Homo sapiens: one gene and its partners. Each later gene encodes a partner of the first gene's protein in a complex. Links are inferred from orthologs where the notes say so. Each region holds a gene or a part of one and is shown on either strand. Other genes may lie near its edges.

Region 1 (7,021 bases):
AGAATTAAAAGGAAACTTTCAGCACAATTCGTGTCTCTGAGTTATCCTTTTTCATGTATTTCTTTTATTTGTACCCAAAATAATACACTCTCATGGGAACATGGTAACAATGTGATTTCTTGGCAGTTCTCCAGATTCTCTTGTAATTGTGTAGATCCACTGTTGGTCACTGTTTGTATGGTCAGGGGTGTGAAAGTAAAGGAAAATGTATAAAACATTTAATAATTTCTTTATGCTAGGAACAATGCAAAACATTTCTCAAATTCCTGTAACATGTTTTTATCAATAATTTTATGTAACATTAATAGCCCTTTATATAATCCACAAATATTAGTTATTTACCTACTTGTGTGCTTTGGTGACAAAGCTGTAGAAATATTGTGCTAATTTTCATTATTAGATATTAATTTATGTAATGTACATATTGGTCATAATATGCTTTATTTCATCCAGCTTGTATACCCCTAAAAGAAGATTCACTGATGAAAATTTTTTAAATAAATAGACTGGTAGAGAACACTGATCAGTATCCCCTAATAAATCCACTTTATCCTCGGATGGTTTCTATCATGTAAACATAGGATTAAACTCTTAGCACAAATAAAATGGAATGTTTTCGTCTCTACATTCAGGTGCGAAATAGTTTTTTAAAAATACCTTTATAGCCCTGTTTCTAAATACATCTCATCCATTGGTGGTCCCCAAATATCAGTGTATATTGAAATAGTCACAGGAAAAAAAATCACATATGATTAGATTGACAATTATTGTTTATTCCTAATATCTTTAATATTTTTATAAAATGCTATAATGATATTCAAGAGACTTTAGTGATTTCAGTTAATATGTATGTTTGAAAATAGCTTTTTGTAACATATCAGTGGAAAAATCTATTCATTATTTTATTCTAACTTGGTAATATCTAATTATGTTTTTTAGCTCTTCTCACAGACAGTTTTATCATCTTATCATTTTTGGCACAAAACAAACTATGTTTTATTCAGTTTACCAAGAAGATGGAGTCTTCTGATGTAAACAAAAGACTGGAAAAACTCTCAGCCTTGGATTATAAGGTAGAGATTTTGATTTATATAGTCATATTATTAATTATTAAGGTATATGAGAGTATCACATAAGTTGGTATTCTGCTCATTATTCTTCAACATTTCTGGATTTCAGAAAAACTGGAAATATTACAGGATTAAGCTTAATTAACTGTAAACAGTGGCCATCCTAAGTTTTCTTTTATACTCTCACTATGGGGGGTTGTCTAACAATGGCACGTTTGGAGCAATTTATATAGTATTTATAGACATCAAAGACAGATAATAGAGGCAAGTTACACTTTTGAAAATGGTTTTCGTGCCAGTGGTAGTATATATACCATTCTCATTTTCCCCTAAGACCCCATATCATCTTTCTAGGGTAGGATAGCTTTCTAGGGTAGGATACTTTCCACTTCACAAGAAAAGAAAGATGAAGGCACTTTGAAAGGTTAATAGAAAAGTGTAATAAACAAGGAGGGGGAAGAACCCTCCCCCTCCAGCTATAACTGGACAAAATGCAAAAAGAAATCTTCATGTGTTAGTATCTCACCCTTCACTAATTCCAGGTAATTTGTTTCCTTCCTGTATCAGGAGCTTTACATCTATTAAGGCAGAATTTTTATTTTAAGTGATGTGTTTAATTTGAGTTTTGCCACATTACATTTTAACTGCTGGGAAGGCATATTCTCTGCTAGGATGAGTAATACATTTTCCAGGCTGTTTCAGTTCAAGGCCTCTTTTCAACAGTGACTTGTGTTTGCAAGATTGATCCAACCTCTATGATGTGGATTTGAGACAGTTCACTGTTCACTGGGAACAGAGCTGATATACAGCTTCCTTAAAAAAGATGCACACTTATGCCATACCTAGAGCATCTGTAGCAAGAGCAAAGAGTTTGAGAAGCTAGCTCTGTAGCTTGAAATGTGTGTGTGTTTTTGGCAAAGTAGTATTTAACCTAACCTTTTGCCCTTTGGGATTATTACTTATGAATGAGGTGGTGGTAGCATGGGAGGATTTAGTTTTATTTAGTAGGAACATTTATTCTTAAAAAAAGATTTTTAATGTGGAATAAAATAAATGAGTTTTTCATTGTGGTGATAAACTACCATCTAGTTTCGTTTGCCAGCTTTGTGAAACTTCTATAAAACCTTAATATAGATTTTTTAAAACTGGAAATTAGTGCTACTTATTATATTTGGTTAGCCAAAACAAAAATGGTATTAGCATTCTTAAAGGGATGTTAGTTCTAGAATGGCTAACTTCAGATTTACTTGAAATACTGTTTATTTACTAAAATTGATCGGTCTTTAAAATGCACCAGTGTGCATTAACTCAAACCATTTAAAGTAAGTATATATAAAATTCTGGATGAGTAGTTTCTTTATCTTAGGTGTGATAGCTTGATAAAATCTTCTCAACTGAAGAGTAGTAGCTACCTGAGAACAGAGAGAAACTGTCAAGATGTCATCTTTTCTTATGAAAAGATGAGGAAAAGACATCTAGCGTTTGGGTCCTTAAACCTTAAGTAAGGGAATTACTTACTTGCTTATTCGAATATGCCTTTGGATTTAGGAAAATAGGAACATTGGCACTCCATGTCATTCCTATACATTAGAGAAGTAATCTGTTTCCCTTCGGAAAACTCATTAATTTCATTTCCTGGTTTAATATTTAAAATGTATATTTTTAATACTTAGTCAAATCTGCTATTTGTCCATTGGAAGGATATTTTAAGAAATTTGTTTATTTTACATTCCCTCTTGGTCATCATGACAGAATACTGATAATATTAAACTCATAGGAAACATGAAATTTCCTAACATTTCATAACGTAAGTGATTTGCATTATGTGACAACTGAAAATGTCAGTCACTCATTGTGACTCAATTTCCTCATCTAGAAATTCATAGGTAACACACTTATGCAGCAAATCAGACATTGAAATAATGTATGTGTATTTTTAAGTACTTAGCAATTTCATCGTGGTATTTCTCTCAAATAAGAAGACTTAATGATATTGAGAGCTTAAATATAAGAAATTACACTTAATAGCATAAAGTACATCTGTGTTGTCTGTCATTGCCCATTTGGATTTTAAAACAAGGAAGTGGTATAGAGTATTGTACTTTTGCTTTTCTTTACAGCTGTACCATAGTTTAATTCTTTCAGATTGACATAATTTTGGCAAAGAAAATTGCAGAGTAAACATCCTTAAACTATTGACCTTTAACAAGTTTTCCTGTCTACATCTGAAAAAAATCCAATTCAATTTATTTAACAGTGAAGGGACACTGTGAGGAGTTAAATGTTTACCATGAGAGAACAACACTGGTAATTACTTTGATTTCAGTTCCTTTTGATGTGCATTCAGAGGATGAAGAGGTCAATAATATTATGGCCATGCAAATAGAAAAGGGTTCCTTTTGACCATATTGAAAAAAAATAGCAGAGGATTATTAAAGCATTAACCTTGGTTTTAATGGCCTTGGTTGAGTGGTGAGATCACAATTTGGATGAGCCTGATTATTTACTAAATACAATACATAAATGCAACGGGTTCTTAACACCCGTTGCACTCTGGCATTATCGCATTACTGCCATCCTTTGTTGCCTTGCAGACAGGAATATGAAAGCAATCTGTCATGTAGTGAGACTGGCTCCAGAAGCATTTCTCTGATAAGAAGACCCCCTGCCCTTTGCTAGTGTCTGGTCCAGTAGGCTTAGCCATGCGCTTAATCCCCAGAAAGTGGTTCGATTATTGCTGACCAGCAATGGCAAGATAGTTTTTTTTTTCTTCCAAGCTATCAACCTTCCATTAATTCCTTAAGCAGAAATACGGTGCAATCTATATTTCCTTGGCATGTGTCACACAGATGGTGCCGTGCTTATGTTTTCAAATAACCATGTTCCAAAATAACATAGTTTGAATAATAAATTCTACAAATCCTGCCTAAGAAAGAGAAGCATAATTCTCAGAAGCTGCATAAACTTTTATGCATGATGCTGTGGCTTATCCCTTTTATGCAGAATATATGTGTATACGTCGCATATATTCTTTAAAGAGATATTTGCCTCAAGTTGTTTTTCCTTTTTTTGTTGTCAGTCATTGTTAACACGTTATGTCTTAAACAGTAGTGAGACTCTCTTGGTCAGCAGTACTGAACTTGTCATTTTATACAGCTGGTCCTAAATCATATGTGTAGGTCGATGCTGTCAGGCAACCATGACTGTACATTTTGGTATTGATTGGAATTGCTACATTCAATTTCTTCCTAGCTCACATTTCTCCTTTTCCTTCCTTTGCTAAAAATGGGGAGAATTTTGAACATATGTCTTTTTTATATATGTGTCAGAAGAATTTGGTAAATTCTGACACCTTCTTACGCACATGTTTAACATGCATATTTACTTGCATGTAACTACATTTCCAGATGCTTTAATTTTTGTAATACTTGAGGATTTTGCATCTTTTAAAAGAAATGTTTCATGTATGCTTTTTTAAAATTGTTAGATTTTCTATTATGAAATACCCGGCCCAATAAACAAGACAACAGAGCGACATCTAGCTATCAACTGTGTTCATGATAGAGTTGTTTGCTGGTGGCCACTGGTCAACGATGATGCTTGGCCTTGGGCCCCCATTTCTTCTGAGAAGGACAGAGCCAATCTACTCCTCCTGGGTTATGCTCAAGGAAGACTAGAGGTAAATCTAAAACAAATATGTACATTTTAATAAAGTGTAAATAAAATAGAATTATTAGATTTTCTATTCTGAAATAAATGTGAATATTTTTTACCTATAATTTATGTTTTTCAAATATTCAAAAAGTATCATATCTAGAAGATACCCAGACAATTCCAGGGCTGGCTAGAATAGTGTAGTAATTAAGAGTCCAGGCTTCCAGGTTCAAATGCTAGCTCTGCCACTATGTAGCTTCCTGTCCTTGACCAAGTTACTAACTTGTATGTGCTATAGTTTCATTATTTGAAAAATACAGTTCATGATGATAAATGAGTTAATACATGCATTTAGAGCAATATCAATGTATAGTAAGCCCTGAATCACTGTTCACTGTTATGACTCTTGTTATTATCATTATTAGTTCTATTATTACTGTTTACTCATGATATCATGCCTGTGAAAGCTTTTATTACCAATTACTCTCTTCAGACTTCAGTCAATTAACAAACATTAGTTAAATGCCTATATTGTGTAAGGCCCTGTCGTGCCAGACCGCATTTGGCGCAAGGATATTTAAGGAGAGCTATAGATTATGAGGTGAGGACAGTATCCTCTATCAATTCATGATAATGGTTTGATCATCCATTCATATATGTGAACCTATGTGTATTTTCAGTTTGTACTAGTACTTTGGTTACAGAATTCTCTGTTTTGTTGTATTATAGCTGTAAAAAAAGCTCCCTCTCCCCCACTTTCTTATGTAGGTAAAATAGTATGTTCCTATATTTGCCTCTAAATCAGTTATCTTTTAGACTTTAAGGAGTATTTCCCAGAATTAGTATTCGAGATAAGATGAATACTCTAAGCTTCTGCCTGCTTCTAGCTAATTCTGTGTTCTGTGCCTTTGAGTAGATCACCTACCCTATCTGACTTTAGTTTTCTTATTTTTAAAACGATTGATTTAATTCAGTTAGGTCACCTCGAGGTCTCTAACAGGTCTAAAAAGTGCTTCTATGGATCCTGAAGCACAGATCTGATTTAGACATTGCCTGCTTAAAAGTCTTCTGTAGATGCTAAAACCAAACTCAGCCTCAGCACTAAAAAACCCACCCTGATTGCCCTTGGCCTGCCTTTCCAGTGTTGTTTCCTTACATAAACCATGTCTTAGTCAAATGAATTTACTTGCTGACTCATTATTTCCTACCTCTGCATGTGCACATTAATGGTATTTCTACTTGAAATAGCCATGTCATTTAGCAACTACATATCCCCTGGTATGAAAAACACTGTATTTCATACCAGGGGATATGAATAAGAAACTGTCCCTGCCTTCAAGGATCTTAGTGTCTGCCAATAAGAGACAAATATGAAAATGTGTAAGTGCATTAAAGTGTTAATGGTGCTGTGGGTAGAGTATGTGTAAGCTATAGTGGGACCCAACAGAAAGTGGTGATCGATTCTACTTAGAGAGATGTTAAGTAGGGAAGATTGAAGAGGCTTCCCAATGTGCTTAAATATGAGCTTGGCACACAATTTTACTTTTTAAAATTATCCTTTCTTATCTCACCTTTCTAGAGTTGATATTATTAGCTCTGTGGAACGATTTGGCTAGCTTTTTCCTTTTCTCCTCTCTGTAACAGTACCAAAAGGAATTGATACTTGAAAGTTTGATAAAACTTACCTGTAAAACTTCCTGGGTGTGACGTCTTTTAAGGAGGGTAGATTTTTTTCATTACTGATTCCATTTTTAAAGGGTTGTTTTTTTCCTTTTTTTTCCACAATTGGTGTTTATAGAAAATTATTCATTTTATGCATTTGAATATTTTTTCATAAAGTTGTATGCAAATTTCTACATGATTCTTTATTCACCACTGATTGTATAATTTCCTCCCTTTTGATCTTATTAAGATATATAATTCATTTTTTTCTCAAGAGCTTTTGTTTTAGGAATTGGCCCTTTTAGTTATTCTAGCAACTGGAAAAATTTGTAAAGATTTCTTTTTTAGAGCTTCATGTGAAAGTCATTATGCAAAAAGTATAATCTTGTAGAAGAAATTTCTAGGGCATTAATTGTTTTTCTTGTGTGTGTGTGTGTGTGAAGACATAATCTTTAAATACGAAGTATAGAATTTTTTTTAGAATATCGTGAACCAAAAGTACCAGTCTATTAAAGTAGTATTCAGGCATATTCCTTTAATTTTTTTTTTTTTTCAGTAGCAGCCAAGGGACTTCTTGGACTAATCATCAGAATAAAGATACAATATGCTCTTAAACCCTAAAATTCAAACTAAAA
Region 2 (7,021 bases), on another chromosome or scaffold:
ACTATTAATGGGGGCAACAACATGGATGAATCTCAAAGTAATTATGCTGAATAAAAGAAGGCAGACAAAAAAGAACATTCATACTGCACAATTCCATCTTTATGAAACTTTAGAAACTACAAACTCCTATAGAGTGACAAAAAGCAGATAAATGGTTATCAGGAGAGGCATAAATGGACTTAAGTAGGTACATGGGGAGACTCTTAGGCGAGATGGATATGTTCATTTTCTTGACAGACGTATACATGTTAAAACATCAAATTGTACATTAAAAATATGTGCAGTTTTTTGTATATAAATTATCCTTCAATGAAGCTATTTTTAAAGTCCCAGAAAAAAATTTAAAGGACATACCTCCCTTCTCCAGCCAATCCTTGTGTTTTAGGTGGAAGTTCCTTAGCTTTAACAGCTAATATCTCATTTAAAATGATTCCTGTTTCTCTCCATCAGCCAGTTTTAAAACTGATGTAACAACAACAAAAAATTCACTTTGAAAAATTAAAAATCCAAGTCACAACATTGACAAACTCTCTGTAACATGAACTAGGCATATTAGCTGGTAACTTGGCATTGTTGCAGGTGAATGTGTGATTTCTGTTATCTTAATGCTAAAACTAGCTAATGGCTCCCTCAACCCAACCAACCCACCAGTATTATCTCGGAAGCCTCCCAGGGTATGTGCCCATGTGTCAACTTAAGACATACTGCAGCAATATAAACTCTTATTCTCTAACAAACCTAAAACAAACCTATTAAAAGAACTCTACCAGAATTTACCATAATGTAATTTTATCTCCAAGATGATAAACTTTTAAATTCTATATTGACAATCACATACAGCTCAGGTACAAAGCATGTATGAAACAGTAACTTCTAAAAAGAACACGCAGTTAACTAAAACCTTGAAAATTCAGGATACTTTATGTGAGTCAATATGCAGTACAACTTCCTTAGTAAGCTTCACGTAGTCCATGAAATACAATAGGAAATTCATGTCTTTGCTTTAATGAGAAAGACTAAGGTTGGCATTCCTGTGCCTTTGATTAAAGAGTGGTTCTGTACAAGTTGGGAAGGCCACTGTTTGTAATGATGACTGCAGCTTAGGGAAGTAAACATCTACCATAAGGGAAGAACCGAACATAAGCCTTCCTGGTAAGTTCAGCAAATTAACCCTCATGTCCTACAAATCAAGAAGGGACAGACTTAAAATTTGAAACTTGGTAGGACTTGAAATACAGACCAGCAAAACATCTTATGATAGGGATTTTCTATACTTTTATTATTAGGAGGATAAAGACACTAGAACATGTGGCGTGATTAGTGACATGTGAAAAGCTTAATGATCATTTTTTAAAAGCTAAAATATAACATACATACATGTATTTTGAATCATGAAATACTTTTATTCTTTTAAGTGACAAGTTCTCCTATCACAAGGTCCTCAGATTGGTCATTTCCTAGGAAACAAAGTTCACTATTTTAATCCCATCAAAGTCATGGTGGCCCATTAGGTATCAGGCGTCTTGAATTCTCACACTGACAACACTCAGCTGTGCAACTATACATGAATCATAGATTCTTTCTGGGCTAAAAGTATGCGACTCTAAAATGTGGAGAAGCCAAGAGTTTGAGTCTTACACTGTCTATGGCTTCACATACCAAGACCAAATAAGGTTCTATGTAATTCATATTTCCTTCCAGCAGCCTTGTGTAATAATCATGAATTTTAAAATTATTTTTTTAATGCCTACAGCAGATTACAAAAAAATACGATATTTTAAAATTTGTTTAAGTCTTCAAGAATGTATTAAACAGGTTTCCCCACCATACTTTTAAAGGCAATGATAAAAATCTTTTACATACTGATAGGTAAAAACAATTGCCAAATAACAGTTGCTCCTACATACATATAAATGATTTGTAACTGTTGTTCCTAAATACACATAAAATGTCATCCTAAAACTGACCAGGTATGGTTGTCCATTACTGGGTTAGTTGACATTTTGGCACCAAAACTTTTTCACGATTAGTCATTCTCTTCAAGCTACTGCTAGTTGACTTTTCTAAAGTTCTTAATCCATAGCAGTAAGGGGTAGATTTTTCTTAAAAATGAAGTAGCACTGAATACTGTGAATCAAAATAACCTTTTCATGGCATTATTAAGAAAGTGAAACCTTTAGGTATCTGTATTTTTAAAAATTAAATTATGACGTAAAATGGAAAACAAGAAAATCATGGAGATGCATAGGAAAATACAGCAGAAATATCCAGAAGTGCTGAGAGGTTGTCCTTGATGGTGAGACTATGGGTGGGCGTTCCTTCTGTTATATAGCTATTCATTTCCATAACAGAAAAAATCTACATAAATTTAACAACTGCCTTATAAAACGCGTAGGGTGTCTCTCCACTCCAAATACTAAAGAGATTAAGCCACAAAGGTCACACCAAAGAATCAAGACACTGCGATCGAAACAGAGTTTTTTGAACGCTGTTACAGATATATCCTCCTATGGCCTAGACAGAGCCCATGACCAAAAAGAGGAGATTCTCCTCATCTAAGAATCATTGAAAAAACAAAACAAAACAAACAAAAAACAACCTACAGTAGCAAAGAATGGCATCGTCATTTCTGCTCACACCACCATACAATGGAACGTGGTGCAATTAAATCCCACTTATTATAGAACCCCAAATACTCGATTCCAACCACGCCAACACCCTTGCAGTTCCCCCAGCCCACGTGTATATTCTCTGGATTGATGGGATGGGATTAATTGTCCCTCTTTGAAAACCTTACTCATAATCGCTACTCGCTGAGGAATATGAACCCGAGTCGCTGACCCGATCTTCAAAATCATAGTCCTCATCTTCTTCTTGTGAAGAGGGGTCTCCAGGGAGCTCGTCTGAGCTCGGACGCGAATCGCACGAAGCCACAGAGGCCATCGTCAGGAATGCAATAGCTACGAGTGGAGTAATTCAAATCTCGCAGCTATAGCTTGCTAAGGCCGCCATGTTGCCTCTGCTTGGGAAGGGGCAGAGGCCATGTGACCACCAATCCTTAGCTGCAATTGGTGGCAGGTCGCGTTGCCAGGGAGACGGAGAAGCTTCCCAGAAGAAACAGGGAGAACAGAAAGCAGCCAATGGGCTGAAACTTCCAGGAGGGCTTCTCAGTTGGAAGGATAGAAATAGCTAAAACTTCACCGCTTACGCTCTCCGGAACGCAATTCCTTAGAGCAGCATAACCTGTTAAAACAGGCGGAGATGCACTGGGCTTCTCACCTTTTTCTTCCAGTGCTGGATATCCAGTTTGCTCTTTGTCCTGTGTTTCTAATGCCTAACAGCTGTCGGTCAGCCTGGATTTCCTTCGAGGTGAAGGAAACCGCACTTTACCTTTCCTTAGGACCTCATCCGTGCAAGTAATGGACGCTTTTAAGCAACGCGATCTAGGTGTTAATGTAAATACGCTCCATTGTTTTATGGGTTTCATATTGTTTCGCAATTGCAAACATTTTCACGGTTATCCCAAGTGGGTATTGTAGAGTGCCACAAATGAGTGGCAATCCTGTGGAATCAACTTCATGTTCATTTTCTAACTCAAAATTTTATAATCTAATTAAGTGTTCTCATTATTAAAGTTGGAAGTGTAAACAGGTAAAATCTACCTGTTATTTATGAATACCTATATCAAGTATTTTTTAAGTACAAAAATAACAGCTAGCATTGATTGAGAGTCAGCCTTGGCTCTGCTCACTTTATTCATATACAATGCTGAGCATTCACATACTATGAAGTAAATATTTTCTCTATATTAAATAAGGAAACTAAGCTTTAGAGAAGTTATGCATCTTACTAATGGTTACATGGCTAGCAGTCAACAAAGTCAACCAAGAAATGAACCTAAGTCAATAACCATTACATGAAATTTCCTCCCTCAGAACCCAGTAATTCAACTATTAGATATCTACTCTGAGAAAGGATGCAAATTTATAAAATTTGTAAAAGTGAAAAGCTGAAAGCAATCTTAAAATGTCAAATAATGGGGGAAAAGTTAAATATATATAAAATATGATGATTATGATTTTAACTAGAATGTGTTCAAAGAGTAAAGCATGGGGGAAATGTTCATGTTGCAGCGTGTAAAAAAAGGATATAATGTTATTTTATGATCTAAAAGGCTGGGTGCTGGGGATTCTCTAATGGGCAATTATAACATAGTGATAAGTATTACAATAAATACAAGGTTCTAATGGAATATCCAGAAAAAACCAAAGTAGTATACGTGGGGCCATGACAAATTTCTTAGAGGAAGTATTAATTTATATTGTTATTATGGCATGGTTCCAACAGAGAAAGAGTAATGGGAGATGAGTCATCACATGGCCGGTATGGGTATATGCATGGAGAACTCAAAGGAACCTGAATTGTAGCTGTTGCAGGGGCAGAAAAACTCTACCTCCATCTTCTTAGGGTCCCAGCTGGGCCTGAGAATTAAACTTACCTAAAATAGATTAACAAAAGAAAAGCAACTGGAACTTGTTATACAGATGTTGAGGCCCTGCTCCACATCAACAGGATCAGAATCTCCAGTGGAGGGGCCTGGAAATCTCTATTTCAAACAAGTGCCCCCTGTGATTCAGCAAACTTGGGGAACTGCCCTAAATTTTCTCTCAGTTCTGTGCTTCATCTATACAGGCCAACTGGCCATTCCCTGAATAGGCTGGAACCCACTCCCACCTCGCAAATTTGAGCCTGGCAGACAGACCTCTCTCCTTGCTCTAGAATCCAAGTTTTACATGGCAGGGGAGCCCTCATAAAGAAATGAAGACCCAAAGAAGCAGTTAGAGTCAGTTAACTTATATACTGGATTGGACAAAGAATAGTTAGTTGTGAAGAAGCAACTAAACTAAATTGGGAAGCTTAAAAGATAAGTTATTTTAACAAGGTCTGTACAGAATTCTCTTGGTTTCACTTCTATGCCCTTGAGAATAAGAATGTTACATTTTTCTAGTATAGGGAGGGTGTCTTTCACATGGGAGCTTCATCTGTTGCTTTTAAGAAGCAGCACAAAGGCACTTGCTGTTTTTCAAGTGTATTAAACTTAAATGGCCAGGATAGTATATTTTACCTTCCTCACAGCCAAACAAGCTGCAGTATGCAGCTTATACTTTTAAGCTGAAGTTTAGTTGTATTTACATTAACTGTACATTACATGTACAAATATACATTAAACTATGTACATTTGAATTTGTATATTACATGTACAAATGTACATTAAACTATATACATTTGAATTTCCTAGGTTTTATGGTTTTGTTTTAATTTCTAAATGTGTTTTTATAGTGTTATAACAGCGATTACATTTTGTAATTTATTTGTATTAATTCATAAAATTGTTTTCATCTTATATAGGAGCTATAAAGCACAGATTATACCTCATTTATTTAAAATTATAATTAAAAAACTTAAGTCATCCATGGAAATCCACAATAGTTTTTCCTTAAAAGAGGTCTATATGTTACTAAAGTTGAAGAACAGGAGGAGGAGTTTGTAAAGGGGTAATGGGCAAAAGGAGTGTCAGAGGCATTTGAACCAGAGCGACTCCATCTTGAATAGGGGCTGGGTAAAATAAGGCTGAGACCTACTGGGCTGCTACTCAGGAGGTTAGGCATTCTTAGTCACAGGACAAGATAGGAGGTCGGCACAAGATACAGGTCACAAAGACCTTGCTGATAAAACAGGCTGCGGTAAAGAAGCCAGCCAAAACTTACCAAAACCAAGATGGCTACAAAAGTGACCTCTGGTCATCCTCACTGCTCACTATACGCGAATCATAATTAGAGTACAGTGAGCAGTGAGGATAATGAGCATTAGTTGCTAAAAGACACTCCCATCAGCATCATGACAGTTTACAAACGCCATGGCAATGTCAGGAAGTTATCTAATATATTCTAAAAAAGGGAAGACCCCTCAGTTCTGGGTACTACTCCCCCTTTCCCAGAAAACTCATGAATAATCCACCCCTTGTTTAGCATATAATCAAGAAATAACTATAAGTATACTCAGTCAAGCAGCCCATGCCGCTGCTTTGCCTATGGAGTAGCCCTTCTTTTTTCCTTTACTTTCTTAATAAACTTGCGTTCAATTTACTCTATGAACTTGCCCCGAATTCTTTCTTGGGTAAGGTCCAAGAACTCTCTTGGGGTCTGGATTGGGACCCCTTTCTGGTAACAGGAGGTCCTTGAGGTGGTAGGAGGGGATAGCATCCAAGGCACAGAAGGAGGGATATGACCTCCCTGGACACCTCTTCCCTAAAACTAGAAGAAAGAGCCAAAGAAGGGTGCTGGTGTGGATGGTGACTTGCCAGTTTCAGGCAGGAAGCTGAGGCAGTCTCCATGTGACAGTGTTTATCGTCTGGTAAGTAGGCTGCAACCTTGCCAGCTGAACGTGATGGAGGAAGTAATGGGGTCGGAAGTTTGAAGAAAGTGGAGACAGGAAGGAAGGGAAACAAATATTTCCATTAGCATTGAGATCCAACAAAAAATGTATTACTTTTAAAATCAGAGAAACAATATTATTTTAAAAAGCTGGAGTCCCTATACTCATTATTTTGAGTTTCATGGTAAAATATATATGCTTACTTTCACCACAATCTTAAACATTAGAAATGATTTAAGATTCCATTTCAAAATAAAAAGTGCTTTAGTTACCTCTTTAATAAGTTAACCTTTCCTTGTTTTAAAAGCAACTTATTGGAAGTAAAAAATAAAATAAGAAATTAAAAAAGGACATTTACAAATTTTAGGAAAATATCACATTTTCTTCCTACAAATTTTTCATCAATTTTTTTTTGTAAGCATCTAGTAGTTTCATACCCTGCCTCATAAACCTTGCATGGCACCTCCTTAAATAGAGAACAAAGTCCAAACTGTGTAGCTTCTTTTAAATTTTTTTCTCCAATTCTACAAACAATTGAACACCAATTCAGAATTAAATGGTTTATTCCATGTTACATCGTAAGTTA
Region 3 (7,937 bases), on another chromosome or scaffold:
GGCACGCGCTGAGGCTTCGTTCTAGCTCCATCCTCCTTCGCCCCCACCGCGTGGAAGACTCAGAAAGGGCATAGTTAGCCCTTCTAGGGGCCTGATGGGTTAGACGGAATTATTGTCAAAAGCTAAATAAATTGAAAGCGGCTCAGTCAGCCGCCATCTTTGAGCGGGGCGTCCAGGTCCGCCTCTTGTCTCAAAGGGAGGGGCAGGAGACCTGGTTGCTATGCAACGCGTACGCTGCCCTTGTTTTCGTTTTTGTGTTTTGTTTTTTGTTTGTTTGTTTTTTCGAAACGGGAGTCTCGCCCTGTCGCCCAGGCTGGAGTGCAGTGGCGCGATCTCGGCTCACTACAACCTCCGCTTCCCGGGTTCAAGCGATTCTCCTGCCTCAGCCTCCCGAGTAGCTGGGATTACAGGTGCCCGCAACCACGCCCCGCTAATTTTTGTATTTTTAGTAGAGAAAGAGTTTCACCCTGTGGGCCAGGCTGTTCTCGAACTCCTGACCTCAAGTGATTCGCCCGCCTTGGCTTCCCAAAGTGCTGAGATTACAGGCGTGAGCCACCGCGCCGGGCCCGCTGCCCTTGTTTTGTAACCGTTAGATTAAGTTTCTGGTTCTGTTCTTTCGGGCGTGGGGACTAGGGGAGGGACGCGAGAAGGATCCAATCACATCGGCGGAAACGAGGTTACTAGGCGACGCTTTAAGGTCGTCCTCAACTTGGAAGGGAGGGCAGTTGTTTTCCCCCCCGAAAAGAAGCCGAACACCAAACCAAGTGCGGGTTGCTAAGCAACACCTGAGCGTTGTTTTCTGGGAGAGGAGCCAGAAACTGGCTTAGAACGTAAATACATTCCAGGTGGATTAAAAATGTAAGTGCAACAAATGAAACCCGAAAACTATCTGAAGGGAAAAAATCTTAATGACTGCCATGGAGTTTCTTAGCACTACAGCAAAGTTAGAAAACGTAGTCTTCATTAATTTTTCCCAAAAGACTGTATAAACCAAGTTGAAAAATATACGGCCAACTGGGAAAATCTTTCTAGCGTGTTTGTTGACAGAAATGTACTACGCAAATAAATCTTACTGATGAATAACAATATAGAAAAATAGAAACACTTCATTACTATTATCTTTTAATTTTAATTTTTATTTTTTGAGGCAGGGTCTCTTTCTGTTGTGCAGGTTGAAGTGCAGTGGCCCAATCTTGGCTCACGGCAGCCTCTACTCGCACTGGAGCCACTCTTCAGCCTGTGGAGCAGCTGGGACCACAGCCGCGCACTACCACTTCCAGCTAATTTTTAAATTTTTTGTAGAGATGGGGTCTCACTGTGTTGCTCTGGCGTGTCTCAAACTCCTCGGCTAAAGCGATCCCAGGTGTTAGCCATCGTGCCCTGCCACTTTATATTTGTTTTAATAGAAAGAAACCTGACCAGGGCCGGACGCCGTGGCTCACGCTTGTAATCCCAGCACTTTGGGAGGCCAAGGCGGGCAGATCACCCGAGGTAAGGGGTTCAAGACCAGCCTGGCCAACATGGTGAAACTCCTTCTAACTACTAAAAATAAAAAAATTAGCCGTCCTGGTGGGCGTCTGTAATCCCAGCTACTTGGGAGGCTGAGTCAGGAGATTCTCCTGAACCCGGGAGGCGGAGGTTGCAGTCAACTGAGATTGTGCCACTGCATTCCAGCCTGGGCGGCAGAGTTAGACTCCGTCTCAAAAAAAATAAAAATAAATAAATAAAAAGAAACCTGACTAGTTTCACACAAACACACACACAAAATTTTGAATGGCCAGTAAATATTTTAAAACATAATCTTCGGCCGGGCGAGATGGCTCATGCCTGTAATTCCAGCACTTTGGGAGGTAGAGGCGGGCGCATCACGAGGTCAGTATCACTGGGCGTCGTGGTGCCCACCTGTAATCCCAGCAACTCGAGAGGCTGAGGCAAGGAGAATCGCTTGAACCCGGGAGGCAGAGGTTGCAGTGAGCCGAGATCACGCCACTGCACTCCAGCCTGGGCGACAGAGCGAGACTGTCTCAAAAAAAAAACAAAAAAAACAAAAAAAACAGGCCGGGCGCAGTGGCTCATGCTTGCAATCCCAGCACTTTGGGAGGCCAAGGCGGGCAGATCACGAGGTCAGGAGATCGAGACCATCCTTGCTAACACGGTGAAACCCCGTCTCTACTGAAAATCCAAAAAAAAAAAAAAAAAAATTAGCGGGGCGTGGTGGCGGGCGCCTGTAGTCCCAGCTACTCCGGAGGCTGAGGCAGGAGAATGGCGTGAACCCGGAAGGCGGAGCTTGCAGTGAACAGAGATCGCGCCACTGCACTCCAGCCTGGGGGACGGAGCGAGGCGCTGTCTCAAAAAAAAAAAAGTAATAATAATAATAATAATCACCAATTGAAAAGTACTTACAGAAAGCCTAATGATAAAGGTTTTTACCTTTATCATTTAAAATTATTTTTTATTGGGTTTCTATTTTTCTTTTATCTTTTATTTTTATTTTTATTTTTTTTTATTTTATTATTTTTTTTTTGACAAAATCTCGCTCTGTCGCCCAGACTGGAGTGCAGTGGCGCAGTGTCGGCTCGCTGCAGCCTCTGCCTCCCTGGTTCCACCGATTCTCCTGCCTCTGCCTCCCCAGTAGCTGGGACTACAGGTGTGTGCCACCTCGCAGGCAAATTTTTGTATTTTTGTTAGAGACAGGGTTTTACCATGTTGGCCAGGCTGGTCTCAAACTCCTGACCTCAGGTGATCCACCCGTTTTGGCCTCCTAGAGTGCCCGGATTATAGGCAGTGAGCCTGCGGAAGCCCTTTTTTTTTTGAGACAGTCTCATTTGCTGAAGCTTTTTTTTTTTTTTTTTTTTTGAGATGGAGTTTTGTTCTTGTTGCCCAGGCTGCAGTGCAATGGCACAGTCTCGGCTCACGGCAGCCTCCACCTCCTGGGTTCAAGCGATTATCCTGCCTCAGCCTCCCGAGTAGCTGAGTTTACAGGCATGCGCCACCACGCCCAGCTAATTTTGTATTTTTAGTAGAGCCGGGGTTTCTCCATGTTGGTCAGGCTGGTCTCGAACTCCAGACCTCAGGTGACCCGCCCACCTTGGCCTCCCAAAGTGCTGGGATTACAGGCGTAAGCCGCCGCGCCTGGCCTGCTGAAGCCTTCAAATCCATACAATCATATGATTTTACTCCTGTGTGCTTGGCAGGCATCTTTCCAATTTTATGAACACTTTCTTACATTACTAGTATGCCATTGTTACCTGTAACAAAATTAACTTCTTAGTATCATCCAACAGTAAGTGTGTAATCAAACGTTCCAATTGTCTCAAAATGTGTTTTTACAGTTGGTTTATTTGTATCAGGATCCAAACAAAGACCACACACATATTTAGACATTATGTCTCAAGTTTCTTTTCATCTAGAGCAGCCCCCTCTTTTATGCCTGTGTAACTAACATTTTAATAAAGTTGTAAGGAAGATAAAAGTAATCCAGAGAAAGGAAAAAAAATATCAATAGGCAAGAAGGAAGATTAAAATGGTACCTAGGCCAGGCATGGTGGCTCCTGCCTGTAGTCCCAGCACTTTGAGAGGCTGAGGTGGGTGGATCATTTGAGCCAAAGAGTTTGAGACCAGCTTGGGCAACATGGCGACACCCTGTCTCCACAAAAACTACAAAAATTAGCTGGACGTGGTGGGGGCACACCTGTAATCCCAGCTACTCAGGAGGCTGAGGCAGGAGAATCGCTTGAATCCTGGAGGCGGAGGTTGCAGTTAGCCGAGATGGTTCCACTGCACTCCACCTTGGGCGACAGAACGAGACCCTGTCCCCTCTCCCAAAAAAAAAAAAAAGAGAAAAAGATGTACTTTAGGAAGTAGGAAAATTAAAAATTATGCTAGAAAGATGGGCTGATCTGCAAGAAGGAAGAGGAAGGGAAAAATGAATCATAAATACTTTTGTCATTACAAGTAAATGCTGCCTGTGTAAAATAATAAAAATATTCATAAGGGCATTTTAAAAAGTCAGTAAAATGCTGTCCCAGCACTAGTTGGCTAGTCTGGAGGAGTTCAACAACCTAATGTACATCAATACAGAATTGGTCAAATCAATTTGTCACATCCATAAAATAGATTATAAAAATACATTATTAAGATGAAATAGACATACTTTTTCATGGCAAAAAAGAAAGTGTGGAAATGTTAGTATATTGATCATCTTTGTGAAAACGTATGAATAGTCTACGTTAAACTGTATTTTAGGAAAAAAATTGGGGAAGGGATTTTTCACATTTTACATGGTATGCTATCATGTATAAATTCATTACAGAAATGATATTATTTTTATTATTCTGGAAAATAAAGGATTTCCTTGTTTTCTTTTTTCTAATAACAAAAACAACCTTTTTTTTAGTGGTTACTAGGCAACGATCGCTGGACTCAACCACCCTCGAAGGTTGTAGGGGAGATGGTGTTTTTCTCGATTTCGCCCCAAGGAGGGTGCTCGGACTTCGACGTGCCGCCATCTTTGAGCAGGGCACAGCTGTTTACAGCCTTGGAATGGATATCAGGCTGAATGGTGGTTGCTTGGCAACGCCCCGCCACGGTCGCCATCTTTGAGTAGGGCACATTGTTTACTACTATATACTGGAAACCTACAGGGAATGTGGTTGCTAGGCAATGCTTTGGGACCATCGCAATCTTTGATCCGGGCACAGCTGTTTTTTCCGTTTAGAATGTAAATCATCAAAGCCTACAGGATGGTGGCTAGGCAACGCCTTGGCGCAGTCATCATCTTCAATCCGGCTTCTTGGTTCTCTTTACCTCCTCGGAGAAACTAGAAAGCTTTGCAAATTCAATTTGCCGCCATCTTTGTTAGGGGTACCGTGACTTCCGGCTAGGGCGGAAGAGAACCTAATGGGTTTGGGGGAGGTGCCTGAATAGGGTTTGAGGGTCTGTTTGAGTTGGGTGAAGAAGGCGGGAAGTTAATCCTCTTCCAATCAGCTCCCCATCTCGCCCTCTGGCGGCTCCGGACCACAGGCCGAGTTACTCTGATTACCGCCATGCTCCAAGACCCGCACTGACAGTCCCCACGTGAGGGACCGCGGTGGGAGTCCTAAATGGGGGAGGAGGGGACGGGCGGCACTGTGCATCTGCTGTGCCTCGCGGCCTCCAGCGGGGTCCCCCTATTCTGCAGGAGCAGTCGCGGCGGCGCCCCCGCCCGTCAGCAGGTGGGGCCTTGGACGCCTGTATCTAAACCGAAGGGGGTTCGGTGTTTTGACTCTGGGTCTTCAAGGCAGTAGGGGCTGGGGAAGTTTCAGTGTTGAATTTGTAGGACCGAGGAGGCAATGGACCAATAAGCCTGGTTCCCCAAAGAGGCACTGCCAGGTCATATGGAAAGAGGATGGGGCTGGGAGCTGGCACACTTGGGTCCTAAGGGGGAAGGGGATGGGGGGGTGCTCTTGTCTGATGTCCCTAACCCCTCCTTAGCTCCCGTTCTCTGTCATCGGTTCCCTCAATGGAGTCCACATGTTTGGGCAGAATCTGGAGGTGCAGCTGAGCTCTGCGAGGACCGAGAACACGACTGTGGTGTGGAAAAGCTTCCATGACAGGTCCCCAGGAGGGAACGTGGGACAGGGACAGGGCCTGGGTGATAGTCCCTGTTGAAGATGACCCCGGAGGCCTTCCAGCTCTCTAAAAGCAGCTGTTAATTTGGCTATGGGATCTTTAGCAAGCCAGTTACCCTCTTTGATCCCTGATGTTCTCTATAAGAAAGGCAGGTTGGTCTGAGAGAGGATGTATCTGGTGTTCTAGGATCAATGGGCGGACTCCAACATACCCCTTCCTGATTCCCCAGGCCTTGACTCATTCTTCTCACTTCCATTCCACAGCATCACCCTCATTGTTCTGTCATCTGAGGTGGGCATCTCTGAGCTGAGGCTGGAGAGACTACTCCAAATGGTGTTTGGAGCCATGGTGAGACTCACCAGTCCTCTTTTCTCCCCAGACCAGGAATCTGAGATCTCAGCATCCTTTTCCCTCAGACCTAGGAGTGCAGACCACCAACACTTCCTTCCTCAGAACCCAGGAATCTTTTGTTTGTTTGTTTGTTTTGTTTTGAGACGGAGTCTCGCTCTGTTGCCCAGGCTGGAGTGCAGTGGCTTGATCTCGGCTCACTGCAACCTCTGCCTCCCAGGTTCAAGCGATTCTCGTGCCTCAGCTTCCCAAGTAGCTGGGATTACAGGCACGTGCCACCATGCCCAGCTAATTTTTGTATTTTTTGTAGAGACGGGGTTTCACCATATTGGCCAGGCTGGTCTCAAACTCCTGACCTCAAGTGATCCACCCACCTTGGCCTCCCAAAGTGCTGGAATTACAGGCATGAGCCTCCGCGCCCGGCCAGAACCCAGGAATCTTGACTCCCCAGTCCCCAGACCCAGAAGTGGGAGTCCCAGCCCCCTCTTCCTTCAGACCCAGGAGTTCAAGTCCCAGCCCCTCGCCCATCCTCTCCTATATGATTCTTCTAGGTCCTTCTTGTGGGACTTGAAGAACTGACCAATATCCGCAACGTGGAGAGACTGAAGAAGGACTTGAGGGTGAGGTTGCAGGACATGAGGGTGGGAAGTTAGGATACCTGGGCACTGCCATTTGGGAACTACAGTTCCCAGCAGCCCCTGGGGCAGCCTGGTCCCACAGGTTCTTGGTTGTCTGACCCTGGGCCCACTTGAATCCTAGGCTGGTCCCTTCTTCCTCTCCTAGGCCAGTTATTGCCTCATCGACAGCTTCCTGGGGGACTCGGAGCTCATCGGGGACCTGACCCAGTGTGTGGACTGCGTGATTCCTCCAGAGGGGTCCCTCTTGCAGGTACTGGGGATGCTATGGAAACTCTTACACCTGTTCTGCTGGCCCTGGCTCAGTCCTCATCCTCTTTCTTCTGGACCATTGTCCCAACCTCCTCCTATCCTCTCAGCTTCCAGTCCTATCCCCACCTGGTCCCAGAAGAATCTTTTTTCTTTTTTTTTTTTCTTTTCTTTCTCTTTCTTTTCTTTTTTCTTTTCTTTCTCTCTTTTTATTTGAGACGTAGTTTCACTCTTGTTGCCCAGGCTGGAGTACAATGGCACCATCTCGGCTCACTGCAGCCTGCGCCTCCCGGGTTCAAGTAATTCTCCTGCCTCAGCTTCCCGAGCAGCTGGGATTACAGGCGCCCACCACTACGCCCGGCTAATTTTTTGTATTTTTAGTAGAGACAGGGTTTCACCATGTTGGCCAAGCTGGTCTCGAACTTCTTACCTCAGGTGATCCACCTGCCTTGGCCTCCCACAGTGCTGGGATGACAGGCGTGAGCCACTGCGCCTGGGCCATCTTTCTTTCTTTTCTGAGACAGGGTCTTGCTCTGTCATCCAGGCTAGAGCACAGTGGCTCAGTCATAGCTCACTGCAGCCTTGAACTCCTGGATTCAAGTGATCCTCTCATCTCAGCCTCCCCAGTAGCTGACACTATAGGCACTGTGCCACCACATTCAGCTATTTTTTTTTTTTTTTTTTTTTTGAGACAGAGTCTTACACTGTCACAGGGGCTGGAGTGCAATGGCGCAATCTTGGCTCACTGCAACCTCTGCCTCCTGGGTTCAAACGATTCCCCTGCCTCAACCTCCCGAGTAGCTAGGATTATAAGCGCTGGTCACCACGCCTGGCCCAGCTAATTTTTTGTATTTTTAGTAGAGACAGGGTTTCACTATGTTGGCCAGGCTGGTCTTGAACGCCTGACCTCGTGATCCACCCGCCTCAGCCTCCCAAAGTGCTGGGATTACAGGCATGAGCCACCGCGCCCGGCTGACATTCAGCTATTTTTTTTTTTAAGAGATGGACTAGGGTTGGGGATGGGTTTCCATTAAGTTGCCCGGGCTGGTCTCGAACTCCTGGGCTCAAGCAGTCCTCCCGCCTCAGCCTCCCATA

Evidence for each region.
Region 2: the proteins of WDPCP (region 1) and INTU are in contact, whole or in part, in a cryo-EM structure (PDB 7Q3E), measured with the Mus musculus proteins. The link is inferred for Homo sapiens from one-to-one orthologs. Residues at the interface, in NP_663400.2 of Mus musculus: Phe3, Cys4, Leu5, Ile24, Leu51, Ser54, Arg55, Asp56, Lys93, Leu385, Ala386, Glu387, Asp388, Tyr389, Ile427, Lys446, Leu447, Gly448, Ile449, Leu450, Thr451, Arg452, Gly453, Leu455, Leu462, Gln463, Ile465, His466, Tyr467, Gln487; in NP_780724.3 of Mus musculus: Val481, Gln484, Val488, Asp491, Ser495, Asp496, Glu498, Ala499, Ala500, Asp501, Ser506, Glu507, Asp508, Arg513, Arg514, Thr517, Ser532, His533, Leu534, Pro535, His574, Tyr593, Glu610, Gly613, Cys614, Ala615, Ser616, Lys617, Ser653, Pro654.
Region 3: the proteins of WDPCP (region 1) and FUZ are in contact, whole or in part, in a cryo-EM structure (PDB 7Q3D), measured with the Homo sapiens proteins. Residues at the interface, in NP_056994.3 of Homo sapiens: Arg55, Ile57, Asn75, Lys78, Leu82, Glu418, Asp419, Arg420, Leu421; in NP_079405.2 of Homo sapiens: His293, Glu372, Glu373, Pro374, Arg379, Gln397, Pro399, Thr400, His401, Gly402, Ser405, Leu406.

What each region holds. Positions count from the first base shown.
Region 1 is NC_000002.12:63,431,473-63,438,493, reverse strand, and holds part of WDPCP (WD repeat-containing and planar cell polarity effector protein fritz homolog), read left to right. Parts: intron 1-486; exon of another isoform or gene 487-610; coding exon of another isoform or gene 611-632; intron 633-939; coding exon 940-1,073; intron 1,074-4,557; coding exon 4,558-4,749; intron 4,750-7,021. UniProt on the Homo sapiens protein: Probable effector of the planar cell polarity signaling pathway which regulates the septin cytoskeleton in both ciliogenesis and collective cell movements.
Region 2 is NC_000004.12:127,628,957-127,635,977, reverse strand, and holds the start of INTU (protein inturned), read right to left. Parts: upstream 3,022-7,021; 5' UTR 2,944-3,021; coding exon 2,798-2,943; intron 1-2,797. UniProt on the Homo sapiens protein: Plays a key role in ciliogenesis and embryonic development.
Region 3 is NC_000019.10:49,810,272-49,818,208, reverse strand, and holds the start of FUZ (protein fuzzy homolog), read left to right. Parts: upstream 1-4,916; 5' UTR 4,917-5,102; coding exon 5,103-5,213; intron 5,214-5,472; coding exon 5,473-5,594; exon of another isoform or gene 5,595-5,700; coding exon of another isoform or gene 5,701-5,762; intron 5,763-5,873; coding exon 5,874-5,958; intron 5,959-6,509; coding exon 6,510-6,578; intron 6,579-6,741; coding exon 6,742-6,846; exon of another isoform or gene 6,847-7,937. UniProt on the Homo sapiens protein: Probable planar cell polarity effector involved in cilium biogenesis. May regulate protein and membrane transport to the cilium.